7 linked regions of the Homo sapiens genome follow. The protein of the gene in region 7 interacts with the protein of the main gene of each other region in a biochemical or structural test. Each region holds a gene or a part of one and is shown on either strand. Other genes may lie near its edges.

Region 1 (3,500 bases), on a different chromosome or scaffold from region 7:
TTTTTTTTTTTGAGACGGAGCGTCATTCTTGTTGCCCAGGCTGGAGTGCAATAGCGCAATCTCAGCTCACTGCAACCTCTACCTCCTGGGTTCAAGAGATTCTCCTGCCTCAGCCTCCCAAGTAGTTGGAATTACAGGCATCCACCACCACCCCACCTGGCTAATTTTTTGTATTTTTAGTAAAGACGGGGTTTCACCATGTTGGACAGACTAGTCTCGAACTCCTGACCTCAGGTGATCCACCTGCCTCAGCCTCCCAGAGTGCTGGGATTACAGGTGTGAACCACCATGCCCGGCCTTTTTTTTTTTTTTTTTTTTAGATGGAGTCTCACTCTGTTGCCCAGGCTAGAATGCAGTGGTGCCATCTCAGCTCAATGCCACCTCTGCCCCCAGGGTTCAAGCAATTCTTGTGTCTCAGCCTCCCCAGTGGCTGAGATTATAGGCACCCACCACCACGCCTGGCTAATTTTTGTATTTTTAGTACAGATGGGGTTTCACCATGTTGGTCAGGCTGGTCTCCAACTCCTGACCTCAGGTGATCCGCCCACCTCAGCCTCCCAAAGTATTGGGATTACAGACGTGAGCCACCGTGCCCAGCCTAATTTTTTTTCTCTCTTCAGATTTGCCGGGCTTACCTCCTTCATTTGTTTATTGTGAATTCCCTGAGGATGGCCAGAGGGACAGGCACTACCCTGGGCACTGGGAGGTGAGGGTGGACAGAGCAGGCAGGGAGAGTGGAGTGGAAGCATCCAAATCATCACTGCCTGTCTGGGTGGCACAACCTATACAAATCTGACTGGACTGTGTGTGTCTCTCCTCTGTGTCCCCCAGGGCCCGTCACAGCTGGAGCTGACTCTCCAGGCATCCAAGCAAAATGGCACCTGGCCCCGAGAGGTGCTTCTGGTCCTCAGTGTAAACAGCAGTGTCTTCCTGCATCTCCAGGCCCTGGGAATCCCACTGCACTTGGCCTACGTGAGTGTGTTCCCTCCAACCCCAGGCTGAGGCTCTGGCCATGGGAGGTCCCTACTGTCCATCTCTGTGGGTCAGGGTCTCCCACCCCAGCGGCCCAGCCCTGCTTCTCCCTTTCATCTTGACATTATTCACCAGGGTCCTGCCTGGTGAAGCCAATGGTCTCTACCAGAGAGAACCCAGAGGGCACCAGGACTACAGTAAAGAGTCTAGACCAAGAGGTGGGAGTCAGGTTGATGTGCAGCCCTGGCCAACTCTGATCCTCTGCATAGGCTCAGTTTGCCTCTCTGTCCAGTGGGACAACTGAACTCAATATTTTATATGATAATCTTTTCATTGTCTTTGAAAAAGTTACACGACATATATTTGAAAATATTTAAAGACAGAGGAAAAGGGCCAGGAGAAAACCTAACGTGTTAACAGTGGTTATGGCTGGGAAGTGGGATTAGGAGAGACATTTAGTTGGTTCTTCACACTTTGTTGAGTTTGCAAGAGTTGCTCTAAATGGATTTGGCCTATTTTGGAGAAAAAAGTATTTTTAAAAAACTCAAGTTTTCAGGTCAGCTGTGGATTTGGGAAAAACAATTAAAAACAAACAACCAAAAGCCTCAACTTTTAAAAGTGTTAGCTATATCCACCAGAGAGAGGAGGTCAGGGAGCTGGGACCCACTGCCAGAGGTCAGGGCTGGAGGAGGCAGGGTGGCTTGCCAGCACTGCCTCCTCCATGAGGAATGTCTGGGAGGTGGCCCCCAGATGTGAGCAGCTGTTGTTTACAACAGAGAAAGCAGAGGGTAGGAAGGGGAGAGCCCGGGGGAGAGCAAAGATAGCAAAGGGGAGAGAGGCATAGAAAGAAACATGCCCACTGCGGGAGGGAGGCAGGCTTGAGCGAAGTTGGGCGTGGGGGACAGGGGAGAAGCTTCCGGACTGGTGACAGGGACAGCACAGAGACAGTCAGACATGACCAAGCCAGCATGCCAAAGTCCTAGGAGGGAGGGGGCCAAATCCAACCACCAGGGCCAAGAGGATTTGACTCCTTGCAGCCCATCCCTCGGCCGCCCAGAAGGGGAATCGAGGTCCCAGAGGGGGCGTGGCCTTTACCATGGATCCTCCCCCTTCCCGATCTGAGTCCGTGCAGCCCAGGGTGAGGCAGGAACATGAAACGCGCCCGCCAGCCGGAAGGTCGCAGTAGCCGCCGGCTCTGGCCTCGGCCGCGCCGCCTTCCTCCTGGGGCCGCGCTGCTTCCCGAGCGGGCTCCCTGGGGCCGGTGGCCAGAGGGGACAAAGAGGCCAAGGCGCGGCCTCGGTGGCCGACCCAGTGCCAGGCGACCAACAGACGTCGTGCCCTGCTGTATCCCCATTTTACAGGGGCTGACTCAAGGATCAGATCCCTTTCCCAACCCAGCTGTAAAGCCAGTGTCCCAGCCCTTTCCCATTCCGCGGGCTGGGTTCCTCACCCAAGATGCCCATCACTTTGCCCCCTTGTTGAATCCCTACAGAGAAGGTATCTACTTCCTTCTAGATGGGCCATTCTAGGGTGTCTTGTCTACTGTTGCCATCTGGCAGTCCTCAATATCTAGCTTGGGCCAGGCGACCTGGCTTATGTCTGTAATCCCAACACTTTGGTAAGCCGAGGCAGGAGGGTCTCCTTTTTTTTTTTTTTTTTTTTTTTTTGAGATGGAGTTTCACTCTTGTTGCCCAGGCTGGAGTGCAATGGCCCCATCTCGCCTCACTGCAACCTTCGCCTTCTGGGTTCAAGTAATTCTCCTGCCTCAGCCTCCCGAGTAGCTGGGATTACAGGCACCTGCCACCACCCCCACCTCATTTTTTGTATTTTTAGTAGAGACAGTGTTTCATACCGTGTTGGCTAGGCTGGTCTCGAACTCCTGACCTCAGGGGATCCACCCGCCTCGGCCTCCCAAAGTGCTGGTTTACAGGCGTGAGCCACTGTGCCTGGCCAGGAGGGTCTCTTGAGGCCAGGAGTTGGAGACCAGCCTGGGCAACATAGTGAGACCCTCGTCTCTAAAAAATTATAATAAAAAATATTTTTAAATCCAACCCGAAGCCCTTTTGCCCTTCTGCTGCTGCTGTTTCATTCAGCTCAATGCCCTTGGCTTTGGAGACTGTACACTAAGAGCTCAGTCAGTGGCCCCAACAGCTTCCTCTGAATCCTTCAGCTTTCCAGAGTCACTCTTCCAGGAAGTCTTCCCTGTCTGCTTTCCTCCTCACCCCCAACCCCCATTTCTTCTGAGGCAATGGCAGGGTAGGCAGTGAGATGCTGAAGCCACCCAGACTCCCCATCCCTGTCCAACCAGGAGATCTGTCTGGCTCCTTTGTTTCTTATTAAATAAAATTCTGTCTTCTATTGTTTCAAATGACTTGATGCATGTCTAGTTTCTGAATGGTAATATCCCCTAGGGCAGGGACCACTGATATCTGTCTTTAATTCATTAATTCATTCATCCATCCCTTTCTTCTTTCTTCCCTTTCTCCCTGTCTTCCCATAGGCGGGGAGCACCCATCACATGCTGGGTG
Region 2 (3,500 bases), on a different chromosome or scaffold from region 7:
CAGGCAGATGGGGCAGGTCACCTCCTTCTCTATGTCTACCTTTACTGAGAAATCCATTGCACTGCTCCCTTGGCTTCCTTCTGTCTTGACTCTTGAAGTTCTTGGTCACAAACTCCTGCAGTGCTGAGAATGTTGAAGGGGACAGGGTAAGAAAAGAAGGAATAGAAAGAATACTGCTTTTACAGAGATTTAGAACAGGACAAAACATTAATATTTAACAGAGAAAGGAGAAAAGAAAGGCATGAAGAATAAACCAATGACAGAATAAAATGGACTTTGTAGTAATTTCAAACACTTTATTCTTAATTTTTGTCTCAGGACAAATTTCACCCCATCAAGGCAATTATTGTTATTTTCTCTTCTACTGGAGAGGACAAACTGAGGCTCTTCTACCAAGAGCTTCGTGTAACCCATCATTTGTCCTGCCTTTTGTTCCCCAACCCAAAACACATTTTCCATGTTAAATGCACTAAACACACCCCTGCCCCTGGGCTTGCACACAGGCTTTTCTCTCTGAATGGCATGATTGTATCCCCAATATTTGCATGATTCATGAATATTTGCATATTTTTAAGCTATTGAATTGTATTTACATAGCATCAAACACTGCATCAAACATCATTTTTAAGTGTATCATGCAATAATTTCTAGTAAATCTGTGGAACTATATAACTATTACTGTAACCCAATTTAAAATTATTTTTATCACCTGAAAAAAAAAAACCCTAATGCCATCACTCCTATTCTGATCCCAAGCTCCAGGCAACCACTACTAATATCCTTTGGGTTTTTAATCAGTTGATAAAAATAGAATCATAATATATGTCTTTGGTGTCTGAATTATTTTACTTATACTGTTAAGGTTTATCTCCTCTGACTTTTTTCCCCATGTAAAAAATACCTCCTCAATTAAACTATCAAATCTATGGCTCCTCAAGGCTTTTGCACTTGCTCCTCTCTCTGCATAAAATGATCCTCCCCCTGATGTTAGCAAGACTCACTCTTACATTTAATTCAGTCTCCTCTTAGAAGTCCTCTTCTTAGAAGGACATACTATAATTTACTTATAGCAAAACCACCAGTACTGTCACTCACTGCACATTTAGCTTCTTATTTTTACTATGTAATATATAAGATTGTTCTTTAAATGTCTACTTCTTCCTCCTGAAAAGTAATCCATTCATAGACCTGGGACTTTTTTTGTTCACTGATATGTCCTCTATACCTAGAAAAGTGAATCACATACAGGAATAAAACATTTAACGAATATATAAAGCCACAACTTCCTTATCCCTCCATAGATGATTAGACCTTTTAATCAGATTTTCATCTTTTCTTTCCATCAATTAGCAGTTTCCCAATAGCTGACCTTTGGGACCACAATTATGGTTTCCAGTGAAGAAGTGTTTACATCCTAACACATCTACCCATAGCAAGTCCTCCCATGACCTCACACTCCATCCCCAAAGACATACACACACACCCACACACCACCACCACCAACACCATAATAGGAAAATAATTTTATCATGAACAATTTTATAAGCAGTTACAATTTAGAAATCATTTTGACTTCTTTATTCTTCATACAAAACCCTTGAGAAATAAGAATACTCCCTTTCTTCAGGTGTGTCAATAGAATCAAGTGACTTACAAAGATCACTCATTCTAATCTAATAGGTAGAGTAAGAGTGAATGTATTGTCCCCAAGGTCCTCCTTCAGAGTTCTCTCCACTGCAGCACAGATTTATACAGACAACAAAGGTAAAGGCTACAAGAGCTATACTGATACCCAGTGCTATTGGGGGTATAGAAATGGAGAGATCCAGACCAGCTATGTAGTTCTGGGGCATGCTGTGGTTTTAAATGTTGAAATTTCACCTTGGCCTGGACATATGGCAAGGATGGTGATAGGAACCTAAAGATGTATATATTTTGGGAAGAGGAAAAGAGGCTAAAATAGTTATAGGATCACACACATGATATAGACTCAATATACATTTCAAAGAAACATCTGTTGGTCATGGGAGAAAAGTCTCAATCCATAAAGGAGGCCAAGTACATTGAGAATATGTAGCAGAGAGATAAAGTCTGTCCTGTTTCTCCCCAAATGATGTTGAAATCCTAATGTGTGAATGTGCTCTTATTTGAAACTAGTATATTTAAATACTATTTAGTTACCATGTGCTCATTAGGGTAGACCCTTATCCAACATGACTGTGTCCTTATCAAAAAGGGACATTTATACACAAGGAATATGCCAGGGTGAAGAAGAAAGCAGAGATCAGGGTGATGCACCTATAAGCCAAGGAATGCTAAAGGTTTCCAGGAAACTATTAGAAGCTAGAAGAGAGGCATGGACCAGAGGCCTCCTTCATAGCCTTCAGAAGGAACCAGCCCTGTCAACACATTTTATCTTGGATAACTAGCCTCCAGAATTGTAAGGCAATATATTTCTGCTATTTAAGCCAACCACTTTTGGTACTTTTTCTATGACAGCTCTAGAAAACTAATACAAGTGCTTATTTTTCTTGATTTATTCATTCTTTTTTTTTTTTTTTTTTTTTTGAGACGGAGTCTCACTCTGTCACCCAGGCTGGAGTGCAGTGGTGCGATCTCGGCTCCTTGCCAGCTCCGCCTCTCGGGTTCACGCCATTCTCCTGCCTCAGCCTCCAAGTAGCTGGGACTACAGGCGCCCGCCACCACACCCGGGTGATTTTTTGGTGTCTTTTTAGTAGAGACGGGGTTTCACTGTGTTAGCCAGGATGGTCTCGATCTCCGGACCTCATGATCTGCCCGCCTCGGCCTCCCAAAGTGCTGGGATTACTGGCGTGAGCCACCGCGCCCGGCCTATTCATTCTTTATTCTAACATTGAAGAAATGTAGCCCCATTGAAACCCTTCCGACCTAAGACAGGTAGACAGACAGACACATAAACAAAATGCATGCTCCCCTTTGAAGGTGGTGCGAATGTAGAAGTTTCTATGACACGGTGAAGGCTAACTAGGTCCGTAGCTTCCTTGTTTCAGAATACTCTGATTACCTGCACAGAAGCTTTCTTTATCTGTGCAATTTAAATCAAAAAAAAAAAAAAAAAAAAGATGGCCAGGCGCTGTGGCTCAAGCCTGTAATCCCAGCAGTTTGGGGGGCCGAGGCGGGCAGATTACCTGAGGTCAGGAGTTTGAGGCCAGCCTGGCCACTATGGTGAGACCCCGTATCTACTAAAAAATATATATATATACAAACATTAGCCAGGTGTGACAGCAGTTGCTTGTAGTCCCCGCTACTCTGGAGGCTGAGGCAGGAGAATCACTTGAACCCAGGAGGCGGAGGTTGCAGTGAGCTGAGATCACACCACTGCACTCCAGCCTGGCAACAGAGCAAGACTCCGTCAAAAGAAAAAAAAAAAAAAAGATTAAATTAAATTAGTGTGGCTACACAATAAGGAGAAAAATTATAAGGGGTTTAGCCATCAATATCTTTTTTTTTTTTTTTTGAGA
Region 3 (3,500 bases), on a different chromosome or scaffold from region 7:
ATAAACTATCACTGGCCTATATCTTGGCCATATGAAAAATATATAAACACTTATTTTTATAAACTATGTTTTATCAAACAAAAATAATCATCATTATTACCACTGACACATGGATCTAACATAAACATTGGTAATTAAATAAGAATTGCAGAAAATGAGGTTTAAAAGCTTCCTTATTTTTATTCTTTTATTAAATTCCTCTGAAAATGATATGCAAAAGCTATTGTATTCTCCATGCTTGGTATGAGAATCAAGCAGAAAGATCTTCTATATGCCATATATTGCATTGGGAAAGCCAAAAAGCCAGCAGCTCAGGGAAATGAGAGTAGGAAAATGGTAAGAGACTTGCAATTACCCTCTTTTCAGTGTTGAGCACATCATTTAAATGAGATGCTTCACTGGAGAGATAAAATAAGCTAAGACTAGTCTTTTATTCTGTGAATTTAACTAGAGATAAAGTGAGTCTCTTATGTTCATAACGATAAAGTTAAGGTTTCCAACAGAGAATTATAAGCACCTAATTCTTTACTTTTTCAAGGACAAATGAAAAACATTTTGTTAGGAGATTTTTTTGTTATTATATATTCTTTTCAAAAAAAATGACCTTGGGACATTTTTATAAAATACATTCCAGAATAATAGAAAAGTGTTTTTCAGAAATTTTTAAAAATTCAATGCTCTGAATTGAGGTTTCCATTATAATCGTATGTGGCCATTTATCCTAGAGGAACATTTTCTATTAAAACGCAAGCTTGATGCGGATTGGGACACCATCTCCCTTGTCAGCAACCTAGCAACTCAAGCGTTGCCTGGTAACAGCATTTAATAGACATGTGCCAAACAATAAAGAAACATTTTGATATGTGGAGATTCCAAAGCTGCCATAATTACCATAGACAGTCAATTTTAAGAAAGTATATTAGATTTCCTTTTCAAATAAGGCGTTTGGACTGTTGGACATTACAACTTACCCTCTCTGTAGACCCTGTTAATGTCTCTGATTTCTTTGTTAGTTCTTGATGCCAAAATCTCAATTAGAGTATCTTCATCAGTTCCAAGGCCCTAAATTTGAAGAGAAGAAAAGGATAAATGTAGAAAAAAATCTTCATGCAAGAGGATCAATGAGTTTTTGGTGTTCCAAAATTTGTTTGACTCTGTCATTTAGTAAATTTCACCCACAACATTTAATAATTACAATAAGCTCTATTACATTGCCCTAAAACAAAACAAGTTTATCATCAATATTTTGGGTAAAAATAAAAATGCAAATATATGACTCATATAGTGACATGACATGGAAGGTGTTAGTGCCAACATTTCTGTTTTCATTTATATATTAATTCCTTCATTGAGGTATTAATTTATTTATTCTTCAAACTCCCACTGATTGACAGGTACTATACTAGATTTTGAAAATAACATAAGCATAAGTGACTTGCCCAATACATCCTCTTGAGGAAAGGAGTTTGCTCAAATTGGGCGATTTACCTTCATGGCAGCACGAAGTTCATCAGCATCAAATTGCGCTGGAGTTTTTAGCAGAGCTAAAACAACCTCCTCAAGGTGACCTGTAAGGGCTTTCTTCAGTGTTTCATCCAGGGGCTACAAAAAAAAAGATTAGAATCAGGACTTCCAATAAGTAACATGCTAGGTTAAAAAATGTGATATTACCTGACTTTAGGTCATCGTACAACTCATCCCTAAACCCAACCATCTTTTAGAGCTTCTTCCCTTCACATACAAAGTGTACCAAATATTTTGAAACATTATCTTACCCTTCCAGATCTAGAGGGATTAAAATAAAATTTACTGAATTCATCAATAACTTCTTAAAGCATAGGGTTAGTAATCTTATACACAGGGGAGAAATCACAAAGATCAAAACACAGAGGACTGTGTGCTAACAGAAAACAGAAGTAAAATTACTTTTAAAATAATATATTCATGTTTCCAATCTTTGAGGTTTGTACTTCTCAAATAACAAGCAGTATAATCAGATACTGAAATTATATAGTTTTCTAATTTCATTGCTTTAGAAAACTACTCATATTTGGTATAAAAGACATAAGGCTTATTTTTAAAGTAGAATTATATATAAAATTTAGGCATTAAACAGTTCAGTTTAAATATTAGTACATTTCAATCAGACCATATTCTTTATTGACAGCAGCAATCTCGATGTTTACGTTCAAATTAAAAATTTGTCCCCAGAGCACCACATCTGCAAACAATATACACCAAGATGACTAATGTATAAAAATAGGAAATTTGATAAAATTGATTAAATTGCAACAAAGTGGATAAACACTGCAATCCCAATCATAGATGTAATGAGAAAACAGTGGTTAGAACCTTAAAGAACTAGGTAACTGTGCTTCCGAATCCATGGTTAAGTATAACTATGCTGAAATTAAATATCTAAATTTACCACTCTAACTTACCTTTCCTGTTTCCTGGAGATATGCTGCTTTGATCTGTTGACGCTGTGCATTGTTTCGCTTAGTTAGAATGTCAATGATGGTTGCTTCATCCACACCTGGAAATAAAGGGCCAACAGCCTTTAACACCAATTTTCTTCATCATCAATTGACATAAAATAATTCATTACTGAGATGCTCCAAAAGAACTTCTTAACAAATTAAGAAATATAAATTATATATCAGCCTAAAAAATCGATGCTATACTACATATCAAGGAAGCACTTGGGAGAATGACATTTCATTCGAGTGAGAAAGGAAGAGACAATTAACTTTTCCTGGCCCTCAGTGTTGCAGTGTTTGATACTAGTTGCAACTCTATATGTGAACAGAGCTTTTAATTTCAGCATGGAATTTCTGCTAGAAATGAGCCAGTAATATCTGCTGTAACAATAGAGATTCCACTGATGTGAACACAATTTCCTCAGTGTTAAGTAAATAATTACATCTTCGTTTGGCAAAGAAATGTTTTTATCTTCAAAATGAAACAGATTCTTTCCATTGCACATGTCTGTTTTTTGACAGTCATTCAAATAGCCATTCTGAAATGTCCAGGAGGGAACTGTTTTGAGGAAACACGTTACCTTTAACCATTATGGCCTTATGCAAGGCAGCGACATCCGAGGATGGATTGAAGGTAGGATAGGGGCTCACCGCTGATCCGGGACCACCTTTGGATGACTTCACAGTTTGCTAAGAATGAGAGAGAAATAAATTAATGGCCATTTACTTATATTCGTTTTTATTTCAATATTGTAATCATAATTTTATTATCACTCTACTTACAACATATTCCTGCTCTTCATTTTCAATAAACCAGGCCTGCTTGAGGAATTCTGATACCATTGCCATTTTTGAAAAAGTGTCTGGAAAGAAAACAGTTAGATGCTTTTACAAAACAAATGCACCACACACAACCTCTCCTTCCTCACCTCTTACATACATAAGAGTTAGCATTAGAGAGTAGCCTTGCGCTTACTTTCCAGGATCAATTACACTTAGGAGCATAACAAAATGTAAGAC
Region 4 (3,500 bases), on a different chromosome or scaffold from region 7:
CTTGTTACCCCAGGTGTCTGACCTCTTTATCCAGGACTGGGCAGTCAGTATTCCCTTATTCTCCCTCCTTTCTTACCCTGATCCTTTTTTTGTTTGTTCATCTACCTAGGATTCTACAGGCAGGAAACATCTTAGAAATCAGGGTTGGGCAGGCAGGAGCCAGGAGAGTAGCTACAATGACTTCACCAGTACTGGTGGACATACGAGAAGAGGTGACCTGCCCTATCTGCCTGGAGCTCCTAACAGAACCCCTGAGCATAGACTGTGGCCACAGCTTCTGCCAAGCCTGCATCACACCAAATGGCAGGGAATCAGTGATTGGTCAAGAAGGGGAAAGAAGCTGCCCTGTGTGCCAGACCAGCTACCAGCCAGGGAACCTGCGGCCTAATCGGCATCTGGCCAACATAGTGAGGCGGCTCAGAGAGGTAGTGTTGGGCCCTGGGAAGCAGCTGAAAGCAGTTCTTTGTGCAGACCATGGAGAAAAACTGCAGCTCTTCTGTCAGGAGGATGGGAAGGTCATTTGCTGGCTTTGTGAGCGGTCTCAGGAGCACCGTGGTCACCACACGTTCCTCGTGGAGGAGGTTGCCCAGGAGTACCAGGTGAGACCCCAGGATGGAATGGGAGACAGAGAAACAGGGTCTTTGGCAGGTTTTAACGTTTTATCATGCTCTGATCTAATCTCTTTGTAGTCTTTATTTACCTAGAGAATGAACCTGGAAACTGCCTCCCTGATTAAGAATAGATTCTTTATCATTTACTTGCTATTCCAGATTGAGTAGATAGAGCTGCTTGGGGTAAAAGGGGTACTTGGTTGATTGAGTGTGGAGATATGTTGGCAGGGTAGGTAAAGGAATTTATTTACTCATGTATTTATTTTGAGAAGGCGTCTCGCTCTGTCGCCCAGGTTGGAGTGCAGTGGTGCGATCCCGGCTCACTGCAACCTCCGCCTCCCGGGTTCAAGCAGTTCTCGTGCCTGGCCTCCCAAGTAGCTAGGACTGTAGGTGTGCACCACCATGCCCAGCTAATTGTGTGTGTGTGTGCGTGTGTGTGTGTGTTTAGTAGAGATGGGGTTTTGCCATGTTGCCCAGGCTGATCTCAAACTCCTGAGCTCAGGCAATCCACCCGCCTCAGCCTCCCAAAGTGCTGGGATTACAGGCGTGAGCCACAGGTGCTTTGTGGTCAGGCACCTTCCCAAGGGGGATGGAGAATCAGCCTATCCCTGTTGGTTTTCATCCCATGTATATATATAAAAGATTTGTTGGCCCTCTCAAGTTTTCATCCTAGGTTAGGACAGGCTTCTTTTGAGGTTAGCAGAATCTCTGTCCCATTCATTCTATGTCTGGGTACTGAGTCAACTGAAGGCTTGATCCTGCTTGACCTGATTTGTTTTCTTCAAGGAGAAGTTTCAGGAGTCTCTAAAGAAGCTGAAGAACGAGGAGCAGGAAGCTGAGAAGCTAACAGCTTTTATCAGAGAGAAGAAAACATCCTGGAAGGCAAGGGAGACTTTTTCTGAAGATGTCCTGGGGCAGGAATCATGGCAGGTCATAGGAGCTGAGGGCAAAGGAGTCCTTGTCCTGTCTGTCCTCTGATGCCATGACTAGAAGAGCTTCCCTTTGCCTGGTCCTCCACTATATTCCTTCCAAACAGGGGGAGGAGAGGAGGTAAATAGCAAATATATCAAAACTGAACCTAGGAGACAATCACATAGCAGAGGAACCATGGCTAGGGGTCGCCCCAATTCATAATTCTGGGTCTTGCTCTACAGTTTCAGTCTCTTTGGCTTTTCCCTTGCATTCAGAGTACAAATGCAAGGGAAAATGCAGGTAAGGCTTGTGAAGAAGCCCAGATCTGAGACAGGTTAGTCACAGGCCAGTGATTTCCACCTCAGTACTCGAAATTGGAAGAGGAGGCTGATGCAGAGGTGAGGGAGGCTTCCTGGAATCTAAACGTCACCCAGGAATCACAGTTGATGTCTAGATGGCCTAGATAAAGCAGCCCGGGGCCAATGGTCTGGGCAGAGCTGAAGGGAGAAAAGAAGGAAAGAACAGGCTACAAAGGCTTTCTCCTGCAGCATTTACCCTCCCTCTCCCTGGGAGGCTTGGCCCAGGAAAGCAGTCCTGAGCCCAACTTCCCCGCTTTTAATAGAGGAGACCCTCAGTGTGACCGACTAGCAGCCTCTTTTTCTTCCCTGTTCCTGAAGAATCAGATGGAGCCTGAGAGATGCAGGATCCAGACAGAGTTTAATCAGCTGCGAAATATCCTAGACAGAGTGGAGCAACGGGAGCTGAAAAAGCTGGAACAGGAAGAGAAGAAGGGGCTACGAATTATAGAAGAGGCTGAGAATGATCTGGTCCACCAGACCCAGTCGCTGCGAGAGCTCATCTCGGATCTGGAGCGTCGATGTCAGGGGTCAACAATGGAGCTGCTGCAGGTAAGGCTTGTGAAGGAGCCCAGATCTGAGAGTCAAGGAAAAGAGAAACTAACTTTCCTTCCTTTCTGGGACATCAGACTACCATCGTTGCAGGGACAAGAGAAAACATTCCTTTGGCGCTATAGTGCCTATCCCCTATTAAACTGTTTAGAGGTATGGAGTAAAGCGTAAGATAATTCAGAGTACAAATGCAAGGGAAAGTCCCATTTTTATTTATAAAGGGTTGTCTAAAAGTTTATTTGATGCTGTGGAGAAGTTCTGTTGTATCCAGTGATGTTGTTCTTTCTTTCTCAGTCTTGGCACTATTTACATTTCTGGCTGGATAATTCTTTGCTGCGTGGGGTTCTCCTGTACATTGTAGGATGCTTAGCAGCGTCTCTGGCCTCTGCTCACTAGATGTCAGCAGCACCACCCCAGATGTGACAACCCCAAATTTCTTCAGACATTGCCACGATAGCCCCAGGGTGAACACAGTGCTCTCCCAGTTGAGAACCACTGTTCATTAGGCACCTCTCGTCTCTGATGCTGTGTTGGGAATTTGCCAAGTGCTTCTTACCCAGCTTAGTCACAGGCACACTTACGCCAAGCTAAATTCTTAGAGATGATGTATTACCAGCCCTTCTTTGTTTTCACTCTCTTCTCTAGAGCAGAATCATTTAACATACTGTAGCAATTGATATTTGAACTGGTTTTGGGGGTCTGGGCTCTGGTCTGTATGTGTGTAGGTCGCAGATTACAAGGTATCAAGCCTAGAGAGATTTGATGGAGGGACTTGAACTGAGGTTGAAATTCTAGCAGCTATTTTCTGCATAGAATGAATAGTGTGGTTGTGAATTTGAGGCATGATGTAGCTTGTGATATTCTGTAACCTTCAGAGTGTAAGATATTCTTTATATTTTGTTTGTCTTCGTGCTTTCCTCTTGCTCCTTCTTTCTTGGTGGAATAATTGTTTATTTACATATTCTTGGGTCTTAGTATTAGAGCCATGGGTAGCTACTTTCTGCCTGTTACAGCTTTTTCTCATTCACTGCTTCCTGCTTTGCATCTTCATTTTATTCTTCTTGCCTTT
Region 5 (4,081 bases), on a different chromosome or scaffold from region 7:
AGAGATGGGGTCTCACTGTGTTGCCTAGGCTAGTATGGAACTCCTGGGGTCAAGAGATCCTCCCGTGCAGGCCTCTCAAAGCTCTGGGATTACAGGCGAGAGCTACCACGCCCTGCCCAACCTTTGGGTTTTTATTTTTTTAATTTCGTTTATAGAGATGGCGGGGGTCTCACTACATTCACCAGGCTGGTCTCAAAGTCTTGGCCTCCAGCAATCCTCCCGCCCTGGCCTCCCAAAGCGCTGGGATTACAGGCATGAGCTATCGTGCCCGGCCAGCCATTCTTTCTCTGCAGCCGATATAAAGTAGGAAAGAACACAATTTACCGGTGACCGAATGTTCTGGATTTCCAGGGCCTTCCTTCAGGTCCGCAGATGCCCCTCCATCCGGAGTGGGCCTTGCCCGGGGTTCTGTTGCCGAGTCCAGATTCGCAGCTGTCTTTTCCTCTAGAGTCAGGAGAATTTCTGGATTTGCGGGCGCCTTCTCCCCTGTAGAAATGGTGACCTCAAGGCTTCTAGGTCGCATCTTTCCCGAGGGCAGGTACACTTCGAAGGGCCTGCACTCCTTCTGCCCCGGGGCGCCCCCCGCCAGCCCCTGCAGCCTCCCCGCGGAGCTGGCGTTTCTGCGCAGCCGGACCTCGGCCTGGCCCCCCTCTAGCGCCCTGCAGGGGCCGGGGCTTCTCCCGCCCGGCAGGGCCGGGCTCCGGGTCCGAGGCTTGCCCTGCGCGTCCAGGCCCTCCGAGGCCTTCTCTCTGCGTTTGCTCAGGGGCTTCCTCGACAGCCCCCTCCCGGCCTCGGGCTGGCTGCACCGCAGGCTGGCAGCTCCGCCCCCGTACGGCCGAGGGCCGTTCCCCTCGTTCCCCTCGGGGTGGTCTGGAGTCTTCAGGCTCCTGGGCTTGTTCTCCCCCAGGGAGCTGGACGCTGCGGAATCATCTGTGCCGTTTTCTTGTGTGGAATATTCTGGAAGGACAACCAGATGCAAAATGATGAAGCTGTCCCACGTTTAGGGCCCAAGATTCAGGGCAGAGGAGAGAGAATCCCCTTGGATATTAAAGTTTAGAAATTGAGGAAAACAACGGGCCGGGCGCGGTGGCTCATGCCTGTATTCCCGGCACTCTGGGAGGCCGAGGCGGGAGGATCACCTGAGATCAGGAGTTCAAGACCAACAGGGTGAAACCCCGTCTCTACTAAAAATACAAAAATAAGCTGAGCGTGGTGGCGCATGCCTGTAATCCCAGCTTCTCCAGAGGCCAAGGTGGGAGGATCATTTGAGGTCAGGAGTTCGAGACCAGCCTGGCCAACATGGCAAAACCCCGTTCCTACTAAAAATAAGAAACTCAGCCAGACGCGGTGGTGCGCACCTGTAGTCCCAGCTACTCGGGAGGCTGAGGCATGAGAATCGCTTGAGCCCGGGATGTGGAGGTTGCAGTGAGCTGAGATCGGGCCACTGCACTCCAGCCTGAGTGACAGAGCAAGACTCCATCTCAAAAACAAAAGTTCAGGACTTCCTAGACTAGACAATGGCAGTCAATTACCATTCAGTAAGAACATGCTTGATGTTGCTATGTATTTCTCTCTCTCTTATTTTATTTTTTGAGACAGGATCTTGCTCTGTTGCCCTGATGTGATCTCAGCTCACTGCAACCTCTGCCTCCCAGGCTCAAGCAATCCTCTCACCTCAGCCTGTTTTCTGTTTTTTCAATAGCTGAAAATACAGGTGTGTGCTACCACGCCTGGCTCATTTTTTTGTATTTTTGGTAGAGACAGGGTTTCACCATGTTGCCCAAGCTGGTCTCAAACTCCTGAGCTCTAGCAATCCACCCACCTTAGCCTCCCAAAGTGCTGAGATTATTTATAAGTGTGAGCCACCATGCCTAGCCTATATTTCTCAAATAGTACTTTTCAAACGTTTTAAGCAGGACAACTGTTTCAAATAAGATCTTACACAGGTCAGCAAAACCCAGATTATACGCTTTAAAAATAAAAATAAGCCGGGCACGGTGGCCTATGTCTGAAATCCCAGCACTTTGGGAGGCTGAGGCGGGAGGATCACTTGAGGTCAGGAGTTCGAGACCAGCCTGGCCAACATGGTGAACAGCACTGAGAAGATTCTATACCAACCCCGTTCATATGATTGCATAGCAATCCCTTTTTGCTAACCTAGAGATGTTTGTCTGACATGAGTATTAATCATAAATGTAGTGAAGAAGTCTCAAAGAACAGGTGTTCCAGCTCCTGCCTTTCGTGACCCTGACCTGCTTCTTAAAAAACCCATTAGGAGCCTGAAGGAAGTTTACTAACCCAGTTCCAAAGGCCAGAGTGAAGAAAGGGACGTTCCTGAACTAAAGTCATCTGGATTTTGGTAGACCTGAGACTCCCAATCCCCAGGTCAGAGTGAGCTGCTCTGAGCTCCTGGTCCCCTTTCCCACAAAGCAGCCAGCACTCAGCACTGGATGAGGAGGAGGCCTGGGCCCGCTTACCCTGAATGGCTGCCCTGTGGAGCTCCTCGGCCAGCAGGCGCTGGTTGATGGCCCGCAGGACCTGCAGGGTGAGCTGCACGGCGTACTCTTCCCCATAGTAGGTGACCAGCAGAGTGGCCATCTTCACCGGCCTGGCTCTCTGGATCTGGCTCCGGGGGATCCTGGAGTGCTCCTTCTGCACACTGGTGTTCTGCAGCTTGAACTTGAACTTCTCGAAGTCATAGGGCACCAGCTCCTCCAGGGTGGACAGCAGATGGTCACTAGGGGTCTTAGCCATGGTGCTGAGCAGGAGAGGCTCGAGCCAGCTGTCTGGCTTCTGGTAGGAAAAGAAGCCTCTGTCCTTGGTGAGCAAGAAAAGGCAGGTTGTGAAATAGCGGAAAAGGCACAGGAAATGCTCTGTGTCTTGGTGGGAACTGAGACTAAGGGTAAGGGTGTGTCCATGCCGGCTGTGTTCTCTTCTTACAGGTTCAGAGGATTTTCCAGCTGGGAGGGCTCCATGCCTTGGCAGACATGTGCCCCCACACCCCTCCCAAACCCTGGACCTCGCCTCCACACTAGACCACAGACAGATGGGCAAGTCTGCAAGGGAAGGTCTGGGATTGGATTCCAGACACCCCCTCCAATCTTCCTTCCTGCCAGGATCTGGGGCTGGCAGAGCGGGTGAGTGGGAACAGAGAGGACTATGCTGAGGGCCCGCCCTGCTGGTCAACTGTTCTCCTCCAGACTCGGGGTTTCAGGGACCTTCCAGAGCCAATGGCACAGGACGGGGGAAGGGGTGGGCACTGAATACAGTCCTGTGAGCTTTGCCTTTCCTGGCCCAAGAAGGCAAGTGAGGCCAGAAGGGCACTGCCAGGAGATAACTCTTGCCATGCCATCACCCCTGTTGATCCGGTTCCAGTTGACTGGTTCTTCCAGCCACATGAAGGACTTGAAAAGCAATGCCTGGACCACCAGCCTGACTCATCTGTTCCCAGAGCTGACTCAGTCCTCGCTCCCTGGAGCCAGAATGCTCTTCCGTGCACATTCATTGAACATTCTAGACAGTGTGCCAAGATGCTGGAGCTACACGGGTGAAAAGGCACGGGTGTCCTTCAGCTCATATGTGGTGCAGGGCCCCAGAGGTGGCTTTGAAGCTAACAGAAGTTACATGTTGGGGGCAGGGCACAGTGGCTAACGCCTGTAATCCCAGCACTTTGGGAGGCCGAGGTGGGTGGATCACCTCAGGTTGGGAGTACAAGACCAGCCTGGCCAACACAGTAAAACCCCATCTCTACTAAAAATACAAAAATTAGCCAGGCATGGTGGCACGCACCTGTACTCCCAGCTACTCAGGAGGCTGAGGCAGGAGAATCACTTGAACATGGGAGGCAGATGTTGCAGTGAGCCGAGGTTGCGCCATTGTACTCCAGCTTGGGCGACAGAGCGGGACTTTGTCTCAAAAAAAATAAATAAATGAAAAATTACATGTAGGGTGAACTGACTCCTCACTTACCTACTTCTGACCGTTGCATACCCTAATTTTTTTATTTTTAGATAGGGTCTTGCTCAGTCACTCAGGCTGGAGTGCAGTAGTGGGATCTTGGCTCACTGCAACTTCTGCCTCC
Region 6 (4,148 bases), on a different chromosome or scaffold from region 7:
CTTTTTTTTTTTTTTTGAGACGGAGTTTCGCTCTTGTTGCCCAGGCTGGAGTGCAATGGTGCGATATCAGCTCACTGCAACTTCCGCCTCCTGGGTTCAAGTGATTCTCCTGCCTCAGCCTCCCGAGTAGCTGGGATTACAGGTGCGCCCCACCACACCCGGCTAATTTTGTATTTTTAGTAGAGACGGGGTTTCTCTATGTTGATCAGACTGGTCTCGGACTCCTGACCTCAGGTGATCCTCCCACCTCAGCCTCCCAAAGTGCTGGGATTACAGGCATGAGCCACCACGCCCAGCTGAATGTTGTTTTCCTGCCTGCTAACATAACATCCATCCTGTAGTCCATGGTTTAAGGAGTAATTTAGACTTTCAAGTCTCATTATTTAAGAAATACATTTCGCCAGGCATGGTGACTCATGCACTTTGGGAGGCCTAAGTGGATGGATTGTTTGAGCCCAGGAGTTGGATACCGGCCTGGGCAACACAGGGAGACCCCATCTCTACAAAAAATACAAAAATTAGCCTGGTGTGGTGGTGTGCGCCTGCAGTCCCAGCTACTCAGGAGACTGAAGTGGGAGGATCAACTGAGCCCTGGAGGTTGAGGCTGCAGTGAGCCGTGATGGCGCCACTGAACTCCAGCCTGGGTGAGACAGAGCCAGACCCTGTCTCAAAAAACCAAAACAGGAATCCCAGCACTTTGGGAGGGCGAGGCTGGTGGATCACTTGAGATCAGGAGTTGGAGACCAGCCTGGCCAACATGGTAAAACCCTGTCTCTACAAAAAATACAAAATTTAGCTGGGCTTGGTGATGTGCGCCTGTAATCCCAGCTACTTGGGAGGCTGAGGCAAGAGAATTGCTTGAACCCAGGAGGCAGAGGTTGCAGTGAGCCGAGATTGTGCCACTGCATTCCAGCCTGGGCAACAGAGTGAGACTCCAGCTCAAAAAAAAAACAAAAAACAAAAAAACCCAACCAAACACACACACACACACACACACACACACACACACACACACACACACACACACAAGGTGATTGCTATGCAAATTAAATATAGCTTCACCAATCAGCTTGCTTCTCCTAATCCCTCATAGAAATCTTGGAGTAGCCCTGGGGTGCAGTGAGGCCAGATTCCAGGAAGGGAATGGGTGGGATGGGTCTGGGTACTGGTGAGCAGCAGGGAGGGTAAGTAGGTTAGCTTCTGGGCCAAGGAGGGCTCCTGGAGGCTTGTTCTGGGTAAAAGCTGGTCTCCTTGAACCTCGGAAGGTGGGGGAACCCACATCCTGGTCTCACCCGCCCAACCGCCCACTCACCCTTGGGTTAGCAGCCATCTAAGCCCCACCCTCCCCCTCACACGCTTAGCTAGCCTGCCACAAGCTGGCCCCTTGGCCTCCTAGAGACCCTGACATCTCCTCCAGCAGCATCTGTCCTCTCTCCTCAGGGAGGCAAGCATTTGATGCTCGAGGTCCCTGGCAGTTGTGGTCCTTGGCAAGTGATGTGTGAGTCCCGTGTGTCATAGGAAGCTCCCCATCCCCATCTGGTGACCAAAGGCCTGGCTACAAGTAGTGAGTCCTTCCTCCTCCACCCAGACCTCACTGCTCAGATCCCCTTCGCCAACTGGGACATCTTCCGACATGGCCTGGATGCTGTTGCTCATCTTGATCATGGTCCATCCAGGTGACAGGGCGTGCGCTCAGGACCCCAAGGAGTGTGGGTGGGAGGAGGGAGATCCAGGAGGCTGGACTAGATGCTATAGGGAACGGGCTTGGTGGGGGCTGAAACACACGGCTCTGAGGGAGGAGTGGGACTGCTCCAAAGGTGACACTCAGTGGACTCCCCCAATTCACAGTCTCTCTGTGTCACCCACTGTGAGGCTTTTTAGTTTGAGAGATCCAAGTAAATCTATGATAAATTTCTTGGTGAAACTTTTTTTTTTTTTTTTTTGAGACTGAGTCTCGCTCTGTCGCCTGGCTGGAGTGCCGTGGTGCGATTTTGGCTCACTGCAACCTCTGCCTCCCATGTTCAGGTGATTCTCCTGCCTCAGCCTCCTGAGTAGCTGGGACTACACGCACGCACGACCACACCTGGCTAATTTTTTTTTTTTTTGAGACGGAGTCTTGCTCTGTCACCTAGGCTGGAGTGCAGTGGCATGATCTTGGCTCACTGCAACCTCTGCCTCCTAGATTCAAGCAATTCTCCTGCCTCAGCCTCCTAGGTAGCTGGGATTACAAGCGCGCACCACCACACCCAACTAATTTTTGTATTTTTAGTAGAGACAGGGTTTTACCATGTTGGCCGGGCTGGTCTTGAACTCCTGACCTCAGGTGATCTGCCTGCCTCGGCCTCCTAAAGTGCGGGGATTACAGGCCTGAGCCACTGCGCCCAGCCATTTTTGTATTTTTAGTAGAGATGGGGTTTTGCTATGTTGGCCAGGTTGGTCTCAAACTCCTGATCTCAAGTGATCTGCCTGCCTCGGTCTCCCAAATTACTGGAATTATAGGCATGAGCCACTGCGCCCGCCTGGTGGTGAAACTTTTTTTTTGAGACAGTTTCATTCTGTTGTCCAGTCTAGAGTACAGTGGCGGTATCTCAGCTCACTGCAGCCTCCACCTCCTGGGTAAAAATGATTCTCCTGTCTCAGCCTCCCAAGTAGCTAGGATTACAGGTGCATGCCATTACTGCTGGCTAACTTGTGTATTTTTAGTAGAGACGAGGTTTCACCATGTTGGCCAGGCTGGTCTCAAACTCCTGACCTCAGGTGATCCACTCGCCTTGGCCTTCCAAAGTGTTGGGATTATAGGCGTGAGCCACTGCACCCGGCCGAAACTGTTTTTAATGAACTGAGAGACCTTAACTATCAGGCATATTATTAACTAAATGCAGGAGTTCTCAAAATGTGGATTTCTGGGAACCTAGAACAAATTCTTAGGCCCCACTCCAGACCTACTGAGTCAAAAACTCGGGGGGTAGGCCCAGGAATCTGTTCTAGCAGATGCTCCAGGTAATTTCCATACACACTCAAGTTTGAGAACCACTGAAATAGAATGACTTGTAAATTTCCCTAAGTAGATAATTTAATCAGGGATTTTAATATTTGGTTTAATTCATCAACATGGACGGGTTAAATAGGAATCTCAACCAATTAAGGCCACGTCTTCACCTGGAGATTTAATTAGTTACTTTCTTTAACGAAAACCAAGAGTGGCTGGGTGCACTTTGGGAGGCCGAGGCAGGTGGATCACTTGAGATCAGGAGTTTGAGACCAGCCTGGTCCGAGGTGGGTGGATCACTTGAGGTCAGGAGTTTGAGACCAGATGGTGAAACCCTGTCTCGACTGAAAATACAAAAATTAGCCAGTCGTGGTGGTGGGTGCCTGTAGTCCCAGCTACTTGGGAGGCTGAGGCACCAGGATCGCTTGAACCCAGGGGACGGAGTTTGCAGTGAGCCAAGATTGCACCACTGCATTCCAGCCTGGGCAACAGAGCAAGACCCCATCTCAAAAAAAGAAAAAAGAAAAAGAGGAAGGATGGCTTACTGTACAATGCCATTTGTACTAAAATAATACCTGGATAATATAATGAGTGATATTAGTTAACTAGGCAGCTGCATTCATTAATGAGCTTAATTTCACCATGATGGTTTACATTTCAGCTAGACAAGTTACTACTGAACTGGCTGGAGAATGATGGCAGAGGGTGAGAGTGAGAGTTGGTATAGGAAGAATTTGAAAAATGATTTTTATTTTTTATTTTTTGAGATGGAGTCTTGCTTTGTCGCCCAGGCTGGAGTGCAATGGCGCAATCTTGGCTCACTGCAACCTCTGCCTCCCGGGTTCAAGCGATTCTCCTGCCTCAGCCTCCCGAGTAGCTGGGATTACAGGTGCACACCACCATGCCCGGCTAATTTTTGTATTTTTTTAGTAGAGACGGGGTTTCACCATGTTGGCCAGGATGGTCTCGATCTCCTGACCTGGTGATCCGCCCACCTCGGCCTCCCAAAGTGCTGGGATTACAGGCGTGAGCCACTGCACCCAGCCGAAAAATGATTTAATAAGCAATGTTAAGAAATCAGATTGGTTAAGAGGGAAGGGTTTAATGAGGCACCCAAAGTATCTATTCCCATGCACCCTATGCCTGGAGAAAGCTGGGA
Region 7 (3,336 bases):
GGTAGAAAGGCATGGGCAAGAATGTTGACGATGGGAACAATTAAATTTTGAAAGCCGACTATATAAGATACCTTTTTCTCCATAAGAGATTTCATAAAAACCAGGGAGATGGTCCTATATTGGTATCAAATTACTGATTTGAAAGCAGTGAACTATAGAAGGAGAAAATAGGATTAAAAAGCCGTCAAGAAATATACCAGAATCCTAACAATAATTGTCTATGGGTCATAGGTCATCTATAGGTTAACTTTTTCTTAATGCTATTCTGATTTCCTGAACATGTTATATTTCCTTAAGAAAATGAGAGAATAATTTTCTTGAAACAGCTGATTTTTATGAAATTCTGGAAGAGATAATTTTGTGGTAATATTTACTTTCTCCTTAAGAAAAATATTTTAACAAGTATAGGAAACCTTGAGGCCCCAATGCAGTATTAATATTGCTACATATTTTTTCCATTGTGCATTATCTAGAATAAACCACTCCAATTAAATGACATATTGAGACAGGTAATTCACTGTAATATTTATTAAGTAGATGACTTACAAGAGGGATATTGATGAATGTAAAAATTTTCACTCACAGTGAACATGAAACCTTTACACATGTAAGGTTTAGATTCTTTTTTTTTTTTTAATCTGCCCCTTTCAGATTATATCATGGTATATGAAGCACTGGTGAGGTCTATGTCACCAGAAATTCCCAGTTTGCTGATTTCATTGAGTTTTTTAACCCGATGATTGTACTGCAACAAGTGAGCATCATTCACTGCAACCTTGAAGTGGTCAGGTTCAACCAGTACTTGTATCTGAAATGGCATATACATAAACTGTTACATGAGGTAATGCATATGTCAGCTGGATTTAGGCATTCCACAATATATACATATTTCATCTGCACTATAGAAACAATTTTTTGTCAACTGAAATAAAGGGAAAAAATGTCCATTAATTTCAAACCAGTCTGGCCTGAGCCCAGGATGTCCAACATTTCATCCTTATCATTTGTGGGACCAGTTAAGATCCAGAGAAAGTAACTTTACAGCAAAAATGCCAAGTTATGCTGGGCGGGGTGGCTCACGCCTGTAATCCCAGCACTTTGGGAGGCTGAGGCGGGTGGATCACAAGGTCAGGAGATCGAGACCATCCTGGCTAACACAGTGAAACCCCATCTCTACTGAAAATACAAAAAATTAGCTGATTGTGGTGGCGGGCACCTTGTAGTCCCAGCTACTTGGGAGGCTGAGGCAGGAGAATGGCATGAACCCAGGAGGCGGAGCTTGAAGTTAGCCGAGATAGTGCCACTGCACTCCAGCCTGGGCGAAAGAGTGAGACTCCGTCTCAAAAAAACAAAAAGCAACAACAAAAAAATTCCAAGTTATTCAGGTTTTTTTTTTAAAGCAGCAAATTTATTAGAAGGATACATAAGTGAAGCCATAAAGGTGGAGGCTAAAGATTTGCCTGCATAAAAACTTAAAAGAGCCTGGGTGTGGTGGCTCACGCCTGTAATCCCAACACTTTGGGAGGCAAAGGCGGGCGGATCTTGAGCCCAGGAGTTTGAGACCAGCCCAGGCAACATGGTGAAATCCCATCTCTACAAGAAAAATACAAAAATTAGCCACACGTGGGTGGCATACATCTGTGGTCTCCGCTACTAAGGAGGCTCAAGTGGGAGGATCGTTTGAGCCTGGGAGGTTGACAGGCTGCAATGAGCTGTGACCATGCCACTGTACTCCAGCCTGAGTGACAGTGTGAGACCCTGTCTCAAAACAACCAAAAGTTCTGATATGGTCTAAAACACCTAAAAGAAAAACACGAAAATAGGATTCCTCTGGCAAATGTTGTAAGGATTGATGATAATCAGTTTTGGCAAGGGTAGGAGAAATCTACTCTTCCCAATAGTGGATGTTCATTCCTATATCTTTTTGGAAGCAGCAATTTGACAATATCTAAATTGTAAACATGTATATTTAAAGCAAAGATTTCTAGAAGACTTGCTTCTAGGAAGCAAAGATTTCTAGAAGACTTGCTTCTAGGAAGCAAAGATTTCTAGAAGACTTGCTTCTAGGAAGCAAAGATTTGTAAGGATAGTTATTACAGTATTTTAGTAAAATCTTTCCAGGTTGGAGTGTTTCTATTCTGTAAATTTTCATCAGTAGGGTACTGGTTAAATTATCACATATCTAAAAATGAAATACTACTGGCCAGGCATGGTGGCTCATGCCTGTAATCCTCCCAGCACTTTGGGAAGCTGAGGTGGGCGGATCACGAGGTCAAGAGATCAAGACCATCCTGGCCAACATGGTGAAACCCCGTCTCTACAGAAAATACAAAAGTTAGCTGGGCATGGTAGCGCACGCCTATAATCCCAGCTACTTGGGAGGCTGAGGCAGGAGCATCGCTTGAACCCAGGAGGCGGAGGTTGTAGTGAGCCAAGATCGTGCCACTGTACTCCAGCCTGGCGACAGAGCGAGACTCTGTCTCGAAAAAAAAAAAAAGTGCTATTAAGTAACAATATTCTGATACGAAAAGATATCCACCAAATGTAGACTGTGGTCCTTATTTGTCCCTGTTGTTGAAGAGTTTACACTCCAGCTGTTTTATTCACCACTCTATAGTCAACCCTAAATGCTGTGGATCTAATTTGTTGAAGCAGTGCTTACAAATAAAAAGCGTGCTGTATGTCAGAAAATACTGGGAAGATACTCATCGAATTGCAACTTTGTGAGGATGGGGGAAGGAGTAAAAGATAGGAAACTTTGTTAATTTAAAAATTTATAAACTTTTCATAAAACTTTAATTTTAGAATAAAAAACCTTTAGTTTTCATCTCTCTGCCAACTGTGTTTTAAGCAACAAAGTCGCAGTATAACTGTACCATAAAGACTTTTTGCCTTTTTTGTTAAAGATTATATTCTTTTCATTTCTAGAAAGGCTTAAACTCAGAGGGGTGGCAGCAGTGATGATGGAGAGGTGCCTGAAAGGAACTGGGGAGTGTGCCACTCCTGGCCATGTTCTCAGCCTGCTGAGCCTGGTCCCCTGGGCAGGGAGAAGATAAACTGGTTAGGCACCTTAGGAGAGGTGATAAAAACTCTCACTTCAAGTGCTTTGGGGTTTTAGAGTGATTCCTCATGAGAAATATACATTATCAATATATAATAGTAGCAATAACTTACTTTGAATGGTTTCCCACTTTCAAATGGGAAAACCGACTGTCTTTCTTCCCTTCCCCAGTTATTATCCAGCTTTGTATTGCAAACAATGACTCTCCTGTTGTTCTCATTGAAGCGTGGGTTAAAGTGGAAGGCAACATCATTCCCTCTTTGGAAATCTAAAGC

Evidence for each region.
Region 1: the proteins of LGALS3 (region 7) and ENG form a complex in vitro, tested with the Homo sapiens proteins (one study listed by BioGRID and IntAct).
Region 2: the proteins of LGALS3 (region 7) and TRIM22 form a complex in vitro, tested with the Homo sapiens proteins (one study listed by BioGRID).
Region 3: the proteins of LGALS3 (region 7) and ANXA1 interact in a test that uses a peptide from one of them, tested with the Homo sapiens proteins (one large-scale study listed by BioGRID).
Region 4: the proteins of LGALS3 (region 7) and TRIM6 form a complex in vitro, tested with the Homo sapiens proteins (one study listed by BioGRID).
Region 5: the proteins of LGALS3 (region 7) and MEFV form a complex in vitro, tested with the Homo sapiens proteins (one study listed by BioGRID).
Region 6: the proteins of LGALS3 (region 7) and NCR3 interact in a biophysical measurement, tested with the Homo sapiens proteins (one study listed by IntAct).

Annotation. Positions count from the first base shown.
Region 1 is NC_000009.12:127,827,159-127,830,658, reverse strand, and holds part of ENG (endoglin isoform 1 precursor), read left to right. Parts: intron 1-831; coding exon 832-972; intron 973-3,500. UniProt on the Homo sapiens protein: Vascular endothelium glycoprotein that plays an important role in the regulation of angiogenesis. Required for normal structure and integrity of adult vasculature. Regulates the migration of vascular endothelial cells.
Region 2 is NC_000011.10:5,692,790-5,696,289, reverse strand, and holds part of TRIM22 (E3 ubiquitin-protein ligase TRIM22), read right to left. Parts: intron 124-3,500; 5' UTR 58-123; coding exon 1-57. UniProt on the Homo sapiens protein: Interferon-induced E3 ubiquitin ligase that plays important roles in innate and adaptive immunity.
Region 3 is NC_000009.12:73,158,365-73,161,864, reverse strand, and holds part of ANXA1 (annexin A1), read right to left. Parts: intron 3,344-3,500; coding exon of another isoform or gene 3,330-3,343; coding exon 3,264-3,329; intron 3,171-3,263; coding exon 3,062-3,170; intron 2,537-3,061; coding exon 2,442-2,536; intron 1,603-2,441; coding exon 1,489-1,602; intron 1,063-1,488; coding exon 972-1,062; intron 1-971. UniProt on the Homo sapiens protein: Plays important roles in the innate immune response as effector of glucocorticoid-mediated responses and regulator of the inflammatory process. Has anti-inflammatory activity.
Region 4 is NC_000011.10:5,603,137-5,606,636, forward strand, and holds part of TRIM6 (tripartite motif-containing protein 6), read left to right. Parts: intron 1-109; coding exon 110-599; intron 600-1,397; coding exon 1,398-1,493; intron 1,494-2,200; coding exon 2,201-2,431; intron 2,432-3,500. Other genes in the region: TRIM6-TRIM34 (tripartite motif-containing 6 and tripartite motif-containing 34), read left to right, coding at 110-599, 1,398-1,493, 2,201-2,431.
Region 5 is NC_000016.10:3,253,834-3,257,914, forward strand, and holds the start of MEFV (pyrin), read right to left. Parts: upstream 2,801-4,081; 5' UTR 2,755-2,800; coding exon 2,478-2,754; intron 958-2,477; coding exon 325-957; intron 1-324. UniProt on the Homo sapiens protein: Involved in the regulation of innate immunity and the inflammatory response in response to IFNG/IFN-gamma.
Region 6 is NC_000006.12:31,590,207-31,594,354, reverse strand, and holds the start of NCR3 (natural cytotoxicity triggering receptor 3 isoform a precursor), read left to right. Parts: upstream 1-1,348; 5' UTR 1,349-1,633; coding exon 1,634-1,676; intron 1,677-4,148. UniProt on the Homo sapiens protein: Cell membrane receptor of natural killer/NK cells that is activated by binding of extracellular ligands including BAG6 and NCR3LG1. Stimulates NK cells cytotoxicity toward neighboring cells producing these ligands.
Region 7 is NC_000014.9:55,142,588-55,145,923, reverse strand, and holds the end of LGALS3 (galectin-3), read right to left. Parts: coding exon 3,175-3,336; intron 809-3,174; coding exon 653-808; 3' UTR 501-652; downstream 1-500. UniProt on the Homo sapiens protein: Galactose-specific lectin which binds IgE. May mediate with the alpha-3, beta-1 integrin the stimulation by CSPG4 of endothelial cells migration.